Regions from separate parts of the Homo sapiens genome. Here regions 1, 3 and 4 are each reported to be linked to region 2. The links are microRNA targets in miRTarBase. Many come from high-throughput screens and were not tested one by one. Region 2 holds a microRNA gene; each other region holds the end of a gene's coding sequence. Distances are from middle to middle.

Evidence for each region. Region 2 holds the annotated microRNA hsa-miR-421 (AUCAACAGACAUUAAUUGGGCGC, at 1,726-1,748, shown strand). A microRNA usually pairs through its seed, bases 2 to 8, with sites in the 3' UTR of a target mRNA and lowers its output. Matches are read on the target gene's strand: a 7mer-m8 pairs with bases 2 to 8, a 7mer-A1 pairs with bases 2 to 7 and ends in A, and an 8mer does both.
Region 1: the mRNA of NFE2L1 is a reported target of hsa-miR-421. Seed matches in the 3' UTR shown: 7mer-m8 at 1,575-1,581.
Region 3: the mRNA of MSL3 is a reported target of hsa-miR-421. The part of its 3' UTR that is shown has no 7-base or 8-base seed match.
Region 4: the mRNA of PCNX4 is a reported target of hsa-miR-421. Seed matches in the 3' UTR shown: 8mer at 3,152-3,159.

Annotation. Positions count from the first base shown.
Region 1 is chr17:48,059,021-48,063,020 of GRCh38, reverse strand. It overlaps NFE2L1 (NFE2 like bZIP transcription factor 1), which reads right to left. Exons shown (of 6, transcript NM_003204.3): 6 at 1,476-4,000. The coding sequence ends at 3,380. Among named protein-coding and RNA genes, the nearest start is that of NFE2L1, 13 kb to the right of the region's middle.
Region 2 is chrX:74,215,988-74,220,139 of GRCh38, reverse strand. It overlaps MIR421 (microRNA 421), which reads left to right and starts at 1,679; the gene lies at 1,679-1,763. All of the region lies in intron 5 of FTX (FTX transcript, XIST regulator), which reads left to right. It overlaps MIR374B (microRNA 374b), which reads left to right and starts at 1,522; the gene lies at 1,522-1,593. MIR374C (microRNA 374c) reads right to left here and starts at 1,591; the gene lies at 1,522-1,591.
Region 3 is chrX:11,774,489-11,778,488 of GRCh38, forward strand. MSL3 (MSL complex subunit 3) reads left to right here. Exons shown (of 13, transcript NM_078629.4): 13 at 492-1,284. The coding sequence ends at 591. Among named protein-coding and RNA genes, the nearest start is that of MSL3, 18 kb to the left of the region's middle.
Region 4 is chr14:60,133,789-60,137,788 of GRCh38, reverse strand. PCNX4 (pecanex 4) reads right to left here. Exons shown (of 11, transcript NM_001330177.2): 11 at 1-3,819. The coding sequence ends at 3,568. Among named protein-coding and RNA genes, the nearest start is that of DHRS7, 30 kb to the left of the region's middle.

The sequences.
Region 1 (4,000 bases), not on the chromosome of region 2:
ACTGAAACCTCTGCCTCCCGGGTTCAAGCGATTCTCCTGCCTCAGTCTCTGAGTAGCTGGGATTACAGGCGCCCGCCACCACACCCGCCTAGTTTTTGTATTTTTAGTAGAGACGGTTTTACCATGTTGGTTAGGCTCGTGTTTGAACTCCTGACCTCAGGTGATCCATCTGCCTCGGCCTCCCAAAGTGCTGGGATTATAGGCGTGAGCCACCGCACCAGGCCTCAAACTAATTTTTAGTCTTGGTTTTTTCACCCCTTTACGTATCTTGGTTTTATCTGGCTTACAGACTTTAGTCAATTCTGAATTAGGAAAGAGTTCTTGTTTGATATGACCAAACCTTTCCAACTGGAGACTGGGGAGTTGTGGAGAGGCTCTTATAAACTGAAACATAAGAAACCATCATTATTCTTACAATTCTACTGAATTGTAAACATTACTGAAGTAGTATCACTAAAGGACTGAGCTGAACCAGGTTACAGGGTGGTATCCAGGAGTTTGAGATCACAGCTTCCATTAAGAGGATCATAGCTTCCACTCCTAAACCCTGCCCAATAATCTCACAGAAGCCAGGTGCAATGGCTCACGCCTATAATCCCAGCACTTTGGGAGGCTGAGGCAGGCGGATCACTTGATGCCAGGAGTTTGAGACCAGCCTGGGCAATATAGCGAAAGCTTGTCTCTACAAAAATTACCTAGGCGTGGTGGCGTGCGCCTGTAGTCCCAGCTATTCAGGAGGCGGAGGTGGGAAGATGGCTTGAGCCCAGTGGCAGTTGCAGTGAGCCGAGATCACGTCACTGCACTCCAGCCTGGGAGACAAAGCAAGACCCTGCCAATAAAAAGACTGCTGAGTGAGTGTTCATTCTTCCAGCATCTACTAAACACCTGCCCTAACATGGGCATGTGGAAGTTCCAGCATCCCAGAGACCTTCACACATTACAGCTCTTCACAGGGCGGGTAGTTGAGCAGTTTGAGGGAAAGCAGATTCTAGCCCCCTCAGCTGGGGAGGTTTCCCAGTGTCCTAAACCTTGGCCTCCTGCTTCTCTTTAGTGGCCCTGCTCCTGCTTAACACAGTAGTGCTTGTCACATGTTAGTCGCTGCCATGGATTTCTCAGGTTTTCAACATCATAACTACACTCCAATTCTCTGCACCCCTTTGGCAGGTGAGGCCAATAGAAAAATAACAGCACAGTTGAGTTTAAAAATGTAGTTTGTAGCAGGTGGACAGGTAAAGAGCTGGGTTAAATGACACCTCCACCTATCCTAGCTGTATGAGAATAAAAAAACTCCGAATCCTTCCTGAGAGGATTGAGCTGGCTAACCCTATGAAGTACATGGTGTCTAATGCCTGCCCCCAAGGTTTAATACAATATTTAAGACTTGCCTTTTGAAGTTCCCCACTGTCAACCTCCCCAGTTCTCCACCCATCTTCCCATGTGAGCTCTGCCTTAGCCACGCAATGGCCAGTCCTCCCTACAATGAGTCCATTTCCTTTATTCTCAATTTAAATTCAAAGTGGGGAAAAAGTGCACTTAAGAATGAATCATCCATTTTATTTTATTTTGTCATGTGCTCAACAGCATCTCTCTCTCTCTCCCCTCTCCCTGGCAGGTCACAGAGATAAATTAAAAATAAAATCTACAAGGAAAATAATTTATAAAAGCACTCCCAGGTTCACACCTTCTATCCCTACTGCTCAGTTAGGCACCCCCTAACTGGGAATCAGTGCTTCCCCCCACCCCCATTTCACTCCCACTTGTCTGGGGCAGACGGTACTCCAGAGCCGGGCAGGGGTGAGGGCAGCAGTGGCAAACAGTTAAAAATAAAGACATTGTAGTCCTGGAACCATCTGGCCACCTTGGCACTCCCATGTCTGCCTCCCCCAGGCAGCCCTCCAGGAGCCTGTGCGAAGCTGGGGCTGTGGAGAAGCTGCCTGTGGCTGAGAGCTTGTGTGTTTGGGGAGGTGCTCTCAGCCTGTCATATGCACTTCTCAATCTTCTAGAAAGAAACCCAAAAAAGAAAGCAGACGACGACCTCGGGACAGAGGAGAAAAATCCCAAGTGTTCACACAGTTACACGGAGTCTTTATGGCAAAGAGAACATTTAGCAGCTTTGAATATTGGGCATCTCCTTTTTACTCAACACAAGCATTCTAGACCCTATAAGTGAAACAGGGCACAAGCCCTAAAAAAATCAAAGCGCAAGAAATTCTAAGAGGACTAGTTCTTTTGTTGTTGCTGGGTTGTGTAATTTTTTGTGTTTTCCCAGTGATAAGCCCAGTTGTTGGTAGGCAGAGGCCCGAGGGAAGGGTGACTCCCCAGTGTTGTGCTGAATCCTGCCTGGAGGCTGCTACACTAGATTCTCCATCATTCCTCTGCCTCACAGCAGTCCCAGAAGAGGAAGGCTGCAGGCCCAGTTCCCGGAGCACTGCCATCACCCTACCCCAGCTTACAGAAGAGCTCAGGCAGTCTGTGAGGGGTGGGGAACACAAACACCGGACCAGGGGAGGACGGCATACACATGCAGGCTCTGATGGAGACAATGGGAGCCTCAGCTCAGGGGTGGCTGGAGCACGGAGGGAGATGGAGTGGCAAGGCAGTGAATGACATGCGTGATGTTGGGGCTGTTGCAACATGGGACCACGTGACCCTTTCCTGTTCACTCTACCCTTTGACTCTAAATCTCAAAGCCAGTGTTGGGGCCCAGTGGCTCCATTCGATTGAAACATGGCCAATGATATCCAAGAGCTCCCCTTCAGGGATGTCAAAATGCAAGGAGCAGAAAGAGTTAACACCGTCCCTCCCCACCCCCACCCTGTGTCTGTGTACCCCACCCCCCCCGGGGTGAAAATTGGGGTTTATCACACCAGTGATCTAGGCCCACCAGTCACTCCAACCTGCTGCCTGGAATCCTGGCCAGAGCCAACCTTAACCTTCCCTCTGATTTTCTTCCCGCTTTGATTTTTTTTTCGGGGGGGGGGGGGTTCCTTCCTTCCTTCCTTCTATCCCTCCTTCCTGAAATGAGACTTTCTGCCACCTTCCCTTCCTCTCACAGGTCCATTCCTTCCCCTCTGTCGGCCTTTGCTCCACATAGCTCCTCTACCTCCAGCAACTCCACCACCACCCCTGCCTCACAGGAAAGGGGTAGGGTGAGGACCCTGTCCGTCTAAATGGTCTGGCCACTTCCACTCCACCCGAGTGGAGCTGAGCCAGCCAGTGCCTGCCTCTTCCTGTACACTGACCCGCAGTCATCCCATCTGAGAAGATATATTGGATAAGAAGGCATTTAAGTCCCCGCTGTAGGTCCAGGTCCAGGTCCAGGTCCAGCCCTTCTCCAGTTTCGGTCTTGGTGGGCTTCAAACCCCCTTCTTCCCCAGGCTCACTTTCTCCGGTCCTTTGGCTTCCTCTCCTGCCGCCGGGCCTGCTGGTCGGCCATCGTGCGGGGGATGAGGAGGACACTGCCGTCCCCGGCGTACTGGAGCGCATACTGACTGGGCGAGTAGGGTCGTCCGTTCTCATCTCGCAGCCGCCCAAACACCTCCTGGTACAGGCTCTGGACCTTCTGCTTCATCTGTCGCAGGGAGCGCAGGAACTCCACTTTCTCCCGCAGCAGCCGGGCTTTGTCACGCTGCAGGTCCTCCACATCACGCTCCAGATTCAGGATGGTGTCCAGCTTGCGCTTGCGGCAGTTCTGCGCCGCCATCTTGTTCTTGCCCCGGCGCCGGATGTCTCGGATGAGGCTCAGCTGGGCTTCACTCAACTGGTATTTGGACAGCAGTTCATTGAACTCCTCCACAGGCAGGTTGATGATTTTGTCATTGGTGAAAGGGATCTTCATGGCTCGGGCTCGGTGCTCATCCCGGCTCATCTGCTTGTCCAGGAAGTCAGCCTGCTTCTCCTTGCTGCCTTTCTTGAGGGCACTGGGTGGTGGCAGGTCGGCTGAGTCCAGGGCACTGGGTGCCATGTTGTATGTGTGGTTGTGGCCCACGTGCTCCAGGTA
Region 2 (4,152 bases):
AACTTATAGAAAAAGACCTTGATGAAAAATACTGTCATATTCTTTGGATGAATGTTGCAATTAACTCCTTTTAGATCATAACTTGACTGTACAGATTGTGCAAGATTGTTTTCTGGGAACAGCTGTATATGAAATGTTGATTCTCAGGGAGACACCTAGACACCTGAATTGCAGCAGACATTTTATGGTGTTGCTAAGTTGCTGGTCCTTCTCATCAGTAGCAGGCCTACTCTCACTGTCACATATCTCCCACGGTTTTTTTTTTTTTTTTTTTTTTTTTTTTTGTAATTAACCAAAAGTGAAGGCTTTTATATCAAAGACTCAATTGAGGAAGCAGTGGCCTTAGTCATTATTGGCATAATTGCTTTAGTTTGCTTATGGATCTTAAAACGTTTATGACTATATCTGCAAGTAAAAAAAAAATTCAATAATTAAAAACCTAAACATATCGAGTGTTTATTTTCTCTTTTTGCAAAGGTATATTCTAAACTCAATGTTCTTCGGGAAATTTTCCAATTAAGGCTCTGAGTATTGATATTTGGGATTTAGAGAATGGCTTTCTATGACCAGAATGGTTAGTGATGAGATTTTATGTAAGTAGGACTGGGTTTTTCAGGGGGCCTTGTGTAACTTGCCATCAAGAGTTGGGAAAGGAGGCCCTGAGCAGTGCAGCAGAGCTATGTAAAGTGAGAGTTTGGGTCTTGGGACCAGGTAGCCTGGGCTCAAATCTGCTCTCACACTTAGCAATGTGGTCTTGAGCATGATTCTTCACTTCCCCAGGACTCTGTTTTCTCTTATGTAAAATAGGAATAATATTTATTTTCAATGATGGGGGTAAAAAGTACTTAAAGGGACTAATTATGTAAATTGCTTAGAACAGGCCTGGAATATACAGCTAAATGCTGTGTCAACTGTTGTTGCTGATAATGGTGTTGACTATGACAAGTATTAAAAGAAGAGATTTGACTAGAGGTACTTATATTTTGAATGATCAGTGACGATGTTAGGGTTGAGAAAGAAAAACAGTAACTGACTTGAAGGTTTTCAATGGTATGTAAGTGTGAGGTCATTTCACCTTTTATTTCTCTGCCAGGTAGAGTGGGAAACCAAATTAATCACTCCATGATCTAGTGACTAATCTATTGCCTTTGCTTTTAGTTCCAAATAGAAAGCTGTTGAAAAGTTGTTGTATTACACCTGCATAAAGGTTATCCTGAAAACAGAAAAATGCATTAGACTTTGTCAAAACTGGATTTGAAACCTAATTCAACTGCTTGCTGGCTGTGTGACTTAAACTTGTTGAACTTCAGTTTCTTCCTCTAATATAACTATTAATTTTCAGAGTTTCCATGAAGATATTTGTAAAGTGTTTGTCATAGGCACTCTATACATTAATTACAGCTATTATTGTTAGATCTTGGGACACCCAGCACGTGACAAAAACAACAGCAGACCCTGGTGCCTGGGAGGACTTCATGGATCCAGCAGCAACCTGGAGTGGTGCTCCTCTGAAGAAATCCTACTCGGATGGATATAATACAACCTGCTAAGTGTCCTAGCACTTAGCAGGTTGTATTATCATTGTCCGTGTCTATGGCTCTCGTCTACCAGACTTTAAATTCCTTAAGGGCAAGGACAGTGCCTTACTCATCTTTGTATTCACAGTGCCTAATCCGGTGCACATTGTAGGCCTCATTAAATGTTTGTTGAATGAAAAAATGAATCATCAACAGACATTAATTGGGCGCCTGCTCTGTGATCTCCATGGGCTCAGCTTGTCCCCGCCAGTTGCCAACAACGTCCAAGCTCTCTTCAGAATGCTTACTCCTGAAGCTTATTCCTGTCTTCTAATTCTTTTGTTGAGGACTTTTCTGTGTAGTGCAATGATAGCAAATACACTTCATCTCAAGTACCATCTCCAATTGATTGATAATGCCTGCCCTGATTATGTTTTATAACAAGATTCTGAAACCAGGTCTTATCTCAGTGTGAAAGACATTTATAACTATTTAGTGATGTCTGCTGAGGGTCGGAGAAGGGGGAGTAGCAGCACAAGTGCCTCATATGTCATATTTGCTACTCTGTTTTCTATGAAATACTTCATTTCTATGCCTGCATTTTGGTCTTAGCTACTTGCTGATGTTGCATGGCTGTTGCTGCTACTGTAATTGCTGCTAATTGCTCCCTGGGTTGGACCAGAGTGCTCATTGTCTGAACAGAAACCTCATCCTCACAGTCTGAGGTTTGCTCCTGTGGCTGATATTTAAAGTTTTCCCCTTTCAACTTTACTCCAGCTATCCCCTTACCTGCACTGACAGGTAATCCTCCACCGTCCTGTTCACCTCTCACCAGGTTCATATTTTCTTTATCTTATTTATTGTACTTAATCATTATTTTGTGAGAAGCTTTTCTGATTGTAGATGTGACAACCAGAATACAAGTTAAAACCACTTATCCAGCGCCTTACAGTGAATCATTTAACATGAGAAAAAAATTGAGTGTGTTTGCAGACCATGGGGCAGAAGGAATTGAGAAGGGAGTCATTGTAGATGTGAGAAAGAGAGAGATGATAATAGATGGAAGATGATCTTGAAAGATGATGCAGGTGAAGCTGGAAGGGTGAAATTTATGGCTCTAGAACACATGCAGGTGGAGGGTTAGCCTTAGGTAAGTGGAACTACCTCTTTGCTGGAGCACAGAGATAGGGATAGGAGTAAGGAAGAGGACTTGGCAAGGGTGGTGAAGATTTGTAATTGTAGAGGTGGATGATGGGGAGGAAGCTGACCAGGAACAGGAATATGAAGACAAAAGCTGCTGGAACAGAAATACTAGAGGGCTAAATATGAACCAGAGTCCCTAAGGAATATTCAGGCCAAAACGCTGGAGTGAGACCATTAACAGGAGAGCTTATGGTATATCAAAGTAAGAAATGAGTTTGAAACTGGGTTAGAAGCTCAGGAAAATATGAAGTGGTTTTGGGGCATTGTCACTAGCAGTATTTGGTTGCCTTGATTGATTGAGGGGTGGACAGCTAGCAAGAGACGAGTTACACAGAAATGGATTTAAGAATCCAAACTAAGGCCGGGCGCGGTGGCCCACACCTGTAATCACAGCACTTTGGAAGGCCAAGGTGGGCAGGTCACCTGAGGTCAGGAGTTCGAGACCAGCCTGACCAACATGGTGAAACCCTGTCTCTACTAAAAATGCAAAAATTAGCCAGGTGTGGTGGCACATGCCTGTAATCCCAGCTACTCAGGAGGCTGAGGCAGGAGAATCACTTGAACCCAGGAGGCGGAGGTTGCAGTGAGCCGAGATCCCACCCACTGTACTCCAGCCTGGGTAACAGAGTGAGACTTCATTTAAAAAAAAAAATCCAACCTGGACATGGAAGGAAGTAAGGTCAGGAGTGGCCTCAGTCTGGGCCAAAAAGAGGCTTTAATGTGAACAAGGTGAGTGCTGAGTAATTGGAAAACTGGAGTGATAGGACCTGTAATCAGAGTAGACTTTGGAGTGTTAGATTTCAAAACTGGAGTGGTTAAGATACCTGTGAAGCTAGGATGTCAGATGATCATTTACATGACTATTATAGTAACCCAGGATTATAGTAGAAGCTAGGCTTAGAATGAACACTGGGCCAGGTACAAAAGGCTTCAGTGACTGTGAGGAATGACTTGGAGGTTGGCACATGTTAACTGCAAATACTAGAGAAGAAAGGCTGTAGTGGGATAGTAGATGAGCCTTAGAAGAGTGGGGGGATCCAGGTGATTCCTTCTTTTATTGAGTATTTGCTCTATGCCTGACACCTTGCTATATGCCATCTGTTCCCTCTTTTGGGTCTGTCACACTTCAGGAGTGGGAGAATGCGCAAGAATTCCTGGTGAGAACAGCTAGGGGAGCTGTTGGCCTTTAGCACTGCTGGAATCCTGTGGCCGTCTCCTAACTCTTTCAAAGAGCTGCAGGCTGGTCAGCTTGAAGTGGCATAAAAAGATTTATTTAGGATCTAAATTTTTCCTTGATCTTGACCTAAGTTAGTTACATGTTACAAGCATTTGTTGGCCATGTTCCATAATGTACTTTGGCTTCTGAGCCTCTGAGTTGAAGAGTGAGCTAGTGCTGCTCTTAAAAAACAACAACAAAAACAAAAAACCAGTC
Region 3 (4,000 bases), 62 Mb from region 2:
TTTTGTGTTTTTAGTAGAGACGGGGTTTCACTGTGTTAGCCAGGATGTTCTCGATCTCCTGACCTCGTGACCACCTGCCTCGGCCTCCCAAAGTGCTGGGATTACAGGCGTGAACCACAGTGCCCAGCCTATAATCTGTTGTTTTTAATAGTTTGTTTGAACAACAGAAAAATGTAGAAACATTCATGGGCTTTTTTTTTTCCGCCCCCAACAGAAGTGTTTATATAACCAGACTGCCACCTAGTGGAGTGTAGGTTCTGTTTCCATTTGTACACCTGATGATGGTGAAGGCATTCAGATAAGTAGTAATTCACATAGAAGCTGGATAAGTGCAGTGAAAATAATCAGTATAGAGAGATCAAAATTATAGTCATTTTTTTCTTCCTAATACCAAAAAACAGTTGAAATGTTAGTAGGTTGAAAGTCAATATTTTGCTTGATGGTATTTAGTCCTTAGTATGGTGCTCATTGGGGCTATTTTTTTTTTCCAGGTTTTTAGCAGAATACCACGATGACTTCTTCCCAGAGTCGGCTTATGTCGCTGCCTGTGAGGCACATTACAGCACCAAGAACCCCCGGGCAATTTATTAAAATGTTGTTGGTTCTGTAAGAGCAACTGCTCTGTCTAGTTTGGCGCTCTGGGTTCCAGGTGAATAACTAACAAGGTGGTGGGTCTTTACCCACAGCGCAAACACAATGCCCACCTTGGGGCTCTGTTGTTTGAGTTGCCCACATACTGCAGTTATTCTGTTAGGAATGATTCCCTGGGTGCCTGAAAGTGCTCTGACACGACACTTGTTACTTTGCAGGCCATCTGTGATGGCAAGGAAAAAGCAACTATGTTCACAGTGAAATATTCGTGGAATAGGTTAGGCCATTTCAGTAGACATTGCAGTTAGTTAGCAAGAACCACATTGTCTCTTTATTTGTTAGCATTAAACAAATTTTTTTTTGCAAATTGGTTTTATTTTTTTGATGAAGCCGAGCAACTCTGTCCAAAAAGGTTTAGTTTGTACTCGGAAACCACAAAGTAGTCTCAAAGTATTTTAGAGGGAATCGATATTGATGGCAAAAGAAAATTTGCAGCTATGCATTTGCTTCTAACGGTTCCCTCTCTGTGAAACATTATTTTTGGTGATCTAAAGAAAGCATTGCCTTTCTTATTTGAGATTTTACAGCTATACTTTGTTGTGTAATGTTATGGTTCCCTTTCTGTAAAATGTTATTTTTGGTGATCTAAATAAAGCCTGTCTTGTTTGAAAGAACCAGGAGAGAGAGTTTTCACTCTGGCCTTGTCCTCTTTAATGCAGGGTAACAGTGGGGTAACCTTTTGACTCATAACTTTAGGTTTCATTTTGTTTTTCCTTTGTGCCTTTTTTTGTTAAATCCCTCTTTGGTTTTGCCTCACTTGGCAGCAGGACCAGACAGTGGTTCCTAGAAGTTCCTGCAGTTCTGTGCTGTCTTGTTGCTGCATTGTGGTCTCATCTGGGGCTAACACCAGCTTATCCTCCTCCTCCCTCATTACCAACTGACAGTCTCTGCAGTCACTCCTCTAATCCTTATTTTAGTCGCACATGCCTCCCCTATCTTCAGATGTTTTAGAAAGTTCTAACTTCGTAGAAATGGTATCAGTACCATACCAGCATTGAATATAGCACCTGCCTTGTAACTCAACTCAGCAGACCTTAACTTCCAAAGATCACTGGTTGTGAACAAGGGCCACAAAGATTTTTTAAAAATCTGTAGATGGTTTCATCAAAGTGACTTATGCATACACTGACCAATGAGAATTAATACTGTGCACTTAGTTGCTAAGTTAGACGTGGGTTTTGGTGTCTCATCCGGAGTAGTACTCAGGTTCCTGGTAGCTTTTATCTCCATTTGGTTTATGCAATGCTTGTTTGAATCTGGCGCACCTGCAGTGTGCTCTGAATTGCTTAAAAAGCTGAATCAGTAATTACTTATGGCCAGGAAAAGGAAAAAGATTTTCCTTTGTAAGACTCAACTTGTTTAAATGTCTCCAATGAAGTGAGCACAGACATTTATATAGGCACATACCTTGAGTTTACAGTTAATTCATTTTCTAATAATGAACAATTATTTTCTTCCCCTGAAGGCATTTCTTAAATATAACTTCAAAAGTTGATGATGTGGCCGGGCGCAGTGGCTCACGCCTGTAATCCCAGCACTTTGGGAGGCTGAGACAGGCGGATCATGAGGTCAGGAGATCGAGATCATCCTGGCTAACATGGTGAAACCTCGTCTTTACTGAAAATACAAAATAATTAGCCGGGCGTGGTGGCGGGCGCCTGTAGTCCCAGCTACTCGGGAGGCTGAGGCAGGAGAATGGTGTGAACCCAGGAGGTGGAGCTTGCAGTGAGCTGAGATGGCGCCACTGCACTCCAGCCTGGGCAACAGAGCGAGACTCCGTCTCAAAAAAAGAAATAAAAACAGTTGATGCTGTGCAGCTTTGGTTGATTTAAGTACTAATTTTTCATCAAAACATCTAACCCTCTATTGTTTATTACTAATAATTCAAAATATTCCTCAGATAAAAATATTTAAATGTCTATATAATCCTTATACAAATTACAAATTATCTTCCTTTTGTTAATTTTTAAATTGTTACTTTCTTAAACTGCCAAACCTTACAGTTGTTAAGTCTTATATTCATTGTCAATGTTTTCCTTTTAGTAGTAATTTAAAGGCATGTTGAAAACAATATTTCAATAATTTCTGTATCAGACCCTTGTACTAGATCTTTGACAAAAACTTGTGAGAACAAAAAAACCATTTCTGAGCAGAAATGGAATATATAAATCATTCCAGGGTATGACGTACACTAAAGAAGCCAAAGAAAACTTATCAATTTATAAAAGTTGCTGTCTCTCATTAGATATTGTCAACTCAAAAATTTGAACAAGTATAATGACCCTGTTTTGCAGTTAAAAAGATAGTTCAATAGCCTTTGCCCTTTAAGATTTGGCTTGTCAACAGTTAAGTTTTTCTGAGCAGTTATTGACTACTTATTCTGCTGCCAGAAACTACTAGGTATTGGAAACGGGAAGAAATAAGGCATGGTCCTTGTTGGAATACAGTTAAGATAATTTTTACAGGCACTGACCATCATTTTTACTAAATCAAGTTTGGTATTAAGGAAGTGTGTTACTTTAATCAGTTCATAATATACAAAAGTGTAATGTAACCCATAAAGGTCAGCATTTTCCAAAATTAACCCTTCCATTGTCCCAAAAATAAAGTATGCTTCTATTAACTGGTTTTCAGTGCAGAGGGTTTGATCATTGAATGTTTTCATCAGTTATGAAATCTGGCCAAGATGGTGTTAAGGAACTTGATATACACTTGGGTAAAGGGGTTTCAATAGATTAAGTTGAAAGCAATAACTTGGAAATCATGTTTATACTCCAAAGAAGCAAGAAACTCCTCAATAAACTAGTTAAATCTTTTGAACTGGATGACTTTAGTGTGTATTTGTTTTTATGTTATTCTGGTCAAAAGACCAAGTGCTTCTCTGGAATCCACCTTCTAAACTCAACATGAGTTTATCGATGGCTATTTCTTGCCTTCAGCCTTCCCTCCGGTGTAAATTATGGGATATCTAACCAATGAGCAGAATACAAGTCCCCAGCAAATTGTCTCAGGGCCTGGGATGTACCTAGCCAGCACCACTCCCTTTGCATGGTGACAGGCACAGCAACTGGGAGGCTATCCCACATCATATCCAGAATGGACATGTTGCCAACATGCATCATACGTGGAAAATACATGTGTTAGATCTTTCATCACACAGTGAGGAATGCAATTACTAGAAATGGGTGAATAAGCAAGAGTTCACATGTAGTTGAACAGTTGGGTTGCTGGAAATCAGGAGACCTTTCCTACAGGATGATGCTTCTCCTGCTTTGATGGGCAGTCTTGCTAGAATGTGGGTTCTGAGTCAGCCGGCCTGAACTGCTAGTGAGCTCCCAGTCATGCTGAG
Region 4 (4,000 bases), not on the chromosome of region 2:
CTTGATTAATGTACTTTTAAGTTGGGGACTTGTTGATTGATTCTTCTATATAGTTTCTGATTTTCTGCTGAAATTCTCAATCTTGTGTTTTAGATCTTTAAACACACTAAACATAGTAATTTTAGACCCTGTGTTGTATAGCTCATTATCTGGGTCCCCTGTGGCTCTGTCCCATCATCTGTCGCTTCTTTCGGATTTTCATCATGTTGTCTTGTTTCCTCAGATACCTTAAATAACTTTCCAACACTAAACATGAAAAGTTATAAAAATAACTCAAAAGATCAGTCCAGAGAGGATTTACATTTGCTCTGGGTAGCGGCTGCAGCAAAGGGTCACCTGAATCCAGTTTTGGGAAGTGAGAAGATCCTAACTGCATCTGGTTTTTCTTCACCCTTACAATTTGGATATGGTCCTTGGGGTCACAACCCAATGTATGGTCAGTTAACTAGGATTCCTTTCCCCTCCCCTACTTCCTTGGAGAGTCTTGGTCTCCAGTTTTTGTCCCTCTAACTCAGCAGCAAGGCTGTTATAAGTGTTACTTAGCGTCTCAGACTCTCAACCACCTTATCCTGAATTGGCATGTCTCCTATAAGAAAAGCAGCCCAAATGCTGAGCTCAGGTCTCTAAGTTTCATTCTGTCTTAGATCTTAGTGATGTTATTCTTCACTGTCTTTTGGTTCTCTAATGCCTTTAAGCAGATTTTAAAATACTATTTTGCCTGGCATTGCTAGTTCTCTGAAATAGTTGGTATGAATGCACCACTAAAAGTTAGAAGTAGAAAAGTAGGTTTTAGGGAAAATTCAGTAACGTTAGTGTTAGTCCAAACTGCACCATTTTGTAAGCTCCCCGCTATTTTGCAGACCTTGATCAAAGTAAAACATTTCACAGGGGTTCGGGCAGTGAGAAACATGCTGCCTAACCACCTGACCACAAGGCGGAAAAAGGCCCAACCTAAGAAATATCCCTATCATATCTTGCTGGGCAAAGTTCCAAGGAATACTATGATGACATCCCACCACAACAAGGGCCAGAACCACCTCATCATGGGAGCATCTTATCAATATCCTGCCGAGCAGCAAGCCATACTGCCCAGACCCCTCTCACCCATGCCTATAAGTACGCCCAGCCTGTAAGCAGCGGTGGGCTCTGGCATTAAGCTGGTCCCCCACTTCTGTAGGTTTTATGCTAGACATAAAGTCTGCATTTGCTGTCAAGCTGCCCTCTGTGTGTCTTTCTTTAACTCTCACCTTCCCTTCAAAATCTAACAGTCAGTTTTTAATATACCAAGTGAAGATACCAAATAAGTGATATATATAGGTTCAGTGTAAGAAGAGAGGTTGGGTTAGGTACATATATTTGATCATCATCAATTTATTGATGATATTTCAAGTCTTGAAGTAGATGAGATTATCTATGGTGATTGCAGAAACACAAAGGGGGGCCTAGAATCAATTGTTGAGAAATTCTAAAATTTAGAGGTCAGGTAGAAGAGGAGAGGCAGCAAAGATGTTTGAGGAGTTGCTAGGAAGATAAGAAGAAAACAAAGATAATGTAGTGTCAGGAAAGTTCAAAAGAAAACACAAAAGCTGCTTCAAGGAATGGTCAAATGTGTCAATTACTACTAGCTGGTTTGACAATAAAAAGGTCAATAGTGACCTTAATAAAAACTTTTTTTTTTTTTAATTTGGGAGAGTCATGGAGATGGGATCCAGATTGGAATGATTTGACAAGTAAATGAAAGAGAAAACCTGGCTATGAATGAAATGGAGATATGGGAGCACTTTGAGGAGGATGCAAGGTTAAGCGAAGGCATAGCTTGACATTATTATCACAGTGAAAATCTCTAAACAACTTAAAATTCACATTATTTGGGGGACAGTAGTCCAATAAATAATATCTATCAATGGAATTTTATGCTGTCATTAAAAGTGATAATTATGGCTGGGCACGGTGGCTCACGCCTGTAATCCCAGCACTTTGGGAGGCTGAGGCGGGCGGAGCATGAGGTCAAGAGTTCGAGACCAGCCTGGCCAACATGGTGAAACTCTGTCTCTACTAAAAATACAAAAATTAGCCGGCGTGGTGGCATGCGCCTTTAATCCCAGCTACTCAGGAGGCTGAGCCAGGAGAATCGCTTGAACCCAGAAGGCGGAGGTTGCAGTGAGCTGAGATCGTGCCACTGCACCCCAGCCTGGGTGACAGAGCGAGATTCCATCTCGGAAAAAAAAAAAAGCTGATAATTACAAGTACTTTTAACGACATGAGAAAATATTTCTACATGACAAAGATATAAAGGTGTACAGCTAGCAAATCTCAATCATGTAAATTAAATCATAAGTCTGAGATGTAAACTCAGAGTAATACAAAATCCTATCTTAGTAACTGTACTATATTACCTCCAAAAAAAGAATAACATACAAATCTCTTGAATTCATTAACTGAAAATTGGTCCAAAAAGTTTATCCTTTAACATTGTTAGAGTGAACTCGTCCACATACTAAATAAATGGAATACTAATAACAACTTAACTGGTACATTTCATATAATTTGAATGATTTCTAAGGAGAATACATTATTATAAATCTAGGGGGCTCCTACTGATTTCATTGGAAATTAAGTAAGAATTAGAGGAAACTGATCTCTCAACTGATGTGGATTCATTATTAATCCCCCTTACATGTATCTGTAAAACGTTCCTAAGCAAGAAGAGAATGAAAATAAAATTCAGATCGTATTATAAAAATTTTCTTCCATCTCCTTCTGACTTTAGTTCATATACCTTAAGACACTAGTAACTGGTAGTCCTGTTGGGTAAATCATTTTTCAGAAGCAGTAAATTCAGTTGAAAGAAATACATAATGAGTCAGATATATGCTTTAGTAGTCATATGCAGATTACCCTAACATTGCTCTTCCTGTGAATATTCACATGATGAATGGGATGAACCCCGCTCCTTTCACATATATTAGAAGGATATTTGAAAAGGAAGGAAAATATTTTATTAAAAGTTTTTTAAAGTTTATGAATTGAAGTCTATGAAAACAAACTACTTGATACAAAAACATTCAGATATTAGATGTCAAAATAAATCAGCACATTTGAAAATACTATAAATTATATTTCAAACAAATATATACACATTATGTTAACCTTCAACAGGATCCATTATCACTACTTAGAACACTGATATGTTTATCTCTTAAGTATGTAAAAATTACATAGCTGTTAACTTTGTATGGCAATTCACCTATAACACATTTAAGAAAGCATTACAAAATTCATTATATGATAATTCTACAAAAGTTTTCTCACATTTACCAAAGCCTACTAAAGTCCAGAGGGCACAAATATTGGCCAAATAGTTCTTTTATCTTAGACATAAAGATGTTTTTGCTGTTTTTTAGAACCATTAAGATGGCTAAGAGAACCAACTTTACGGAGCTTAGCTGTTCTCAGGCATCTGAATGGGGGTGTGGAGAAGTCCTCAAGTTACAAGAATCACAGTTACTTTTTTAGGATGAAAAAATAAAAACATTGCATTTGATGACATTACAGTCAAAATGAGCTCTAATACAAATGTATGTGGAGAGGTTTTGAAGAATAAATCGGATATCCCAGGGGAGGTTCTGCTGCTTGTACCGTAAGATTTCTTAAAAGTAGTGGATGAGCTTGTATACTATAACGTTCTTCATCATCGTTTGTGGCATAAAGTAATTCCCATGAAAGATTGGCCCACTGACCTCTAACAGCTTCAGGATTTAACTTTCCCACTTGGATCAATAATTCTTGAAGGCTAAGCACTCTCCCAGTGTAAATTCCCTTTAAAGTAAAAAGGGTAGGAGGAGGAGAAAAAGAAAAGAGATTCCATTTAGGTCTTTATATTTTATTCATAAACTTAGAGAAAAATTGCATTGTAATTAGGCAAACTTTTCCCAAGTTCAAAAAACAGAAAGTAGTGTTTAAAAATGTACACAAGTTGCCTGTATTCAGAATCAAGAAT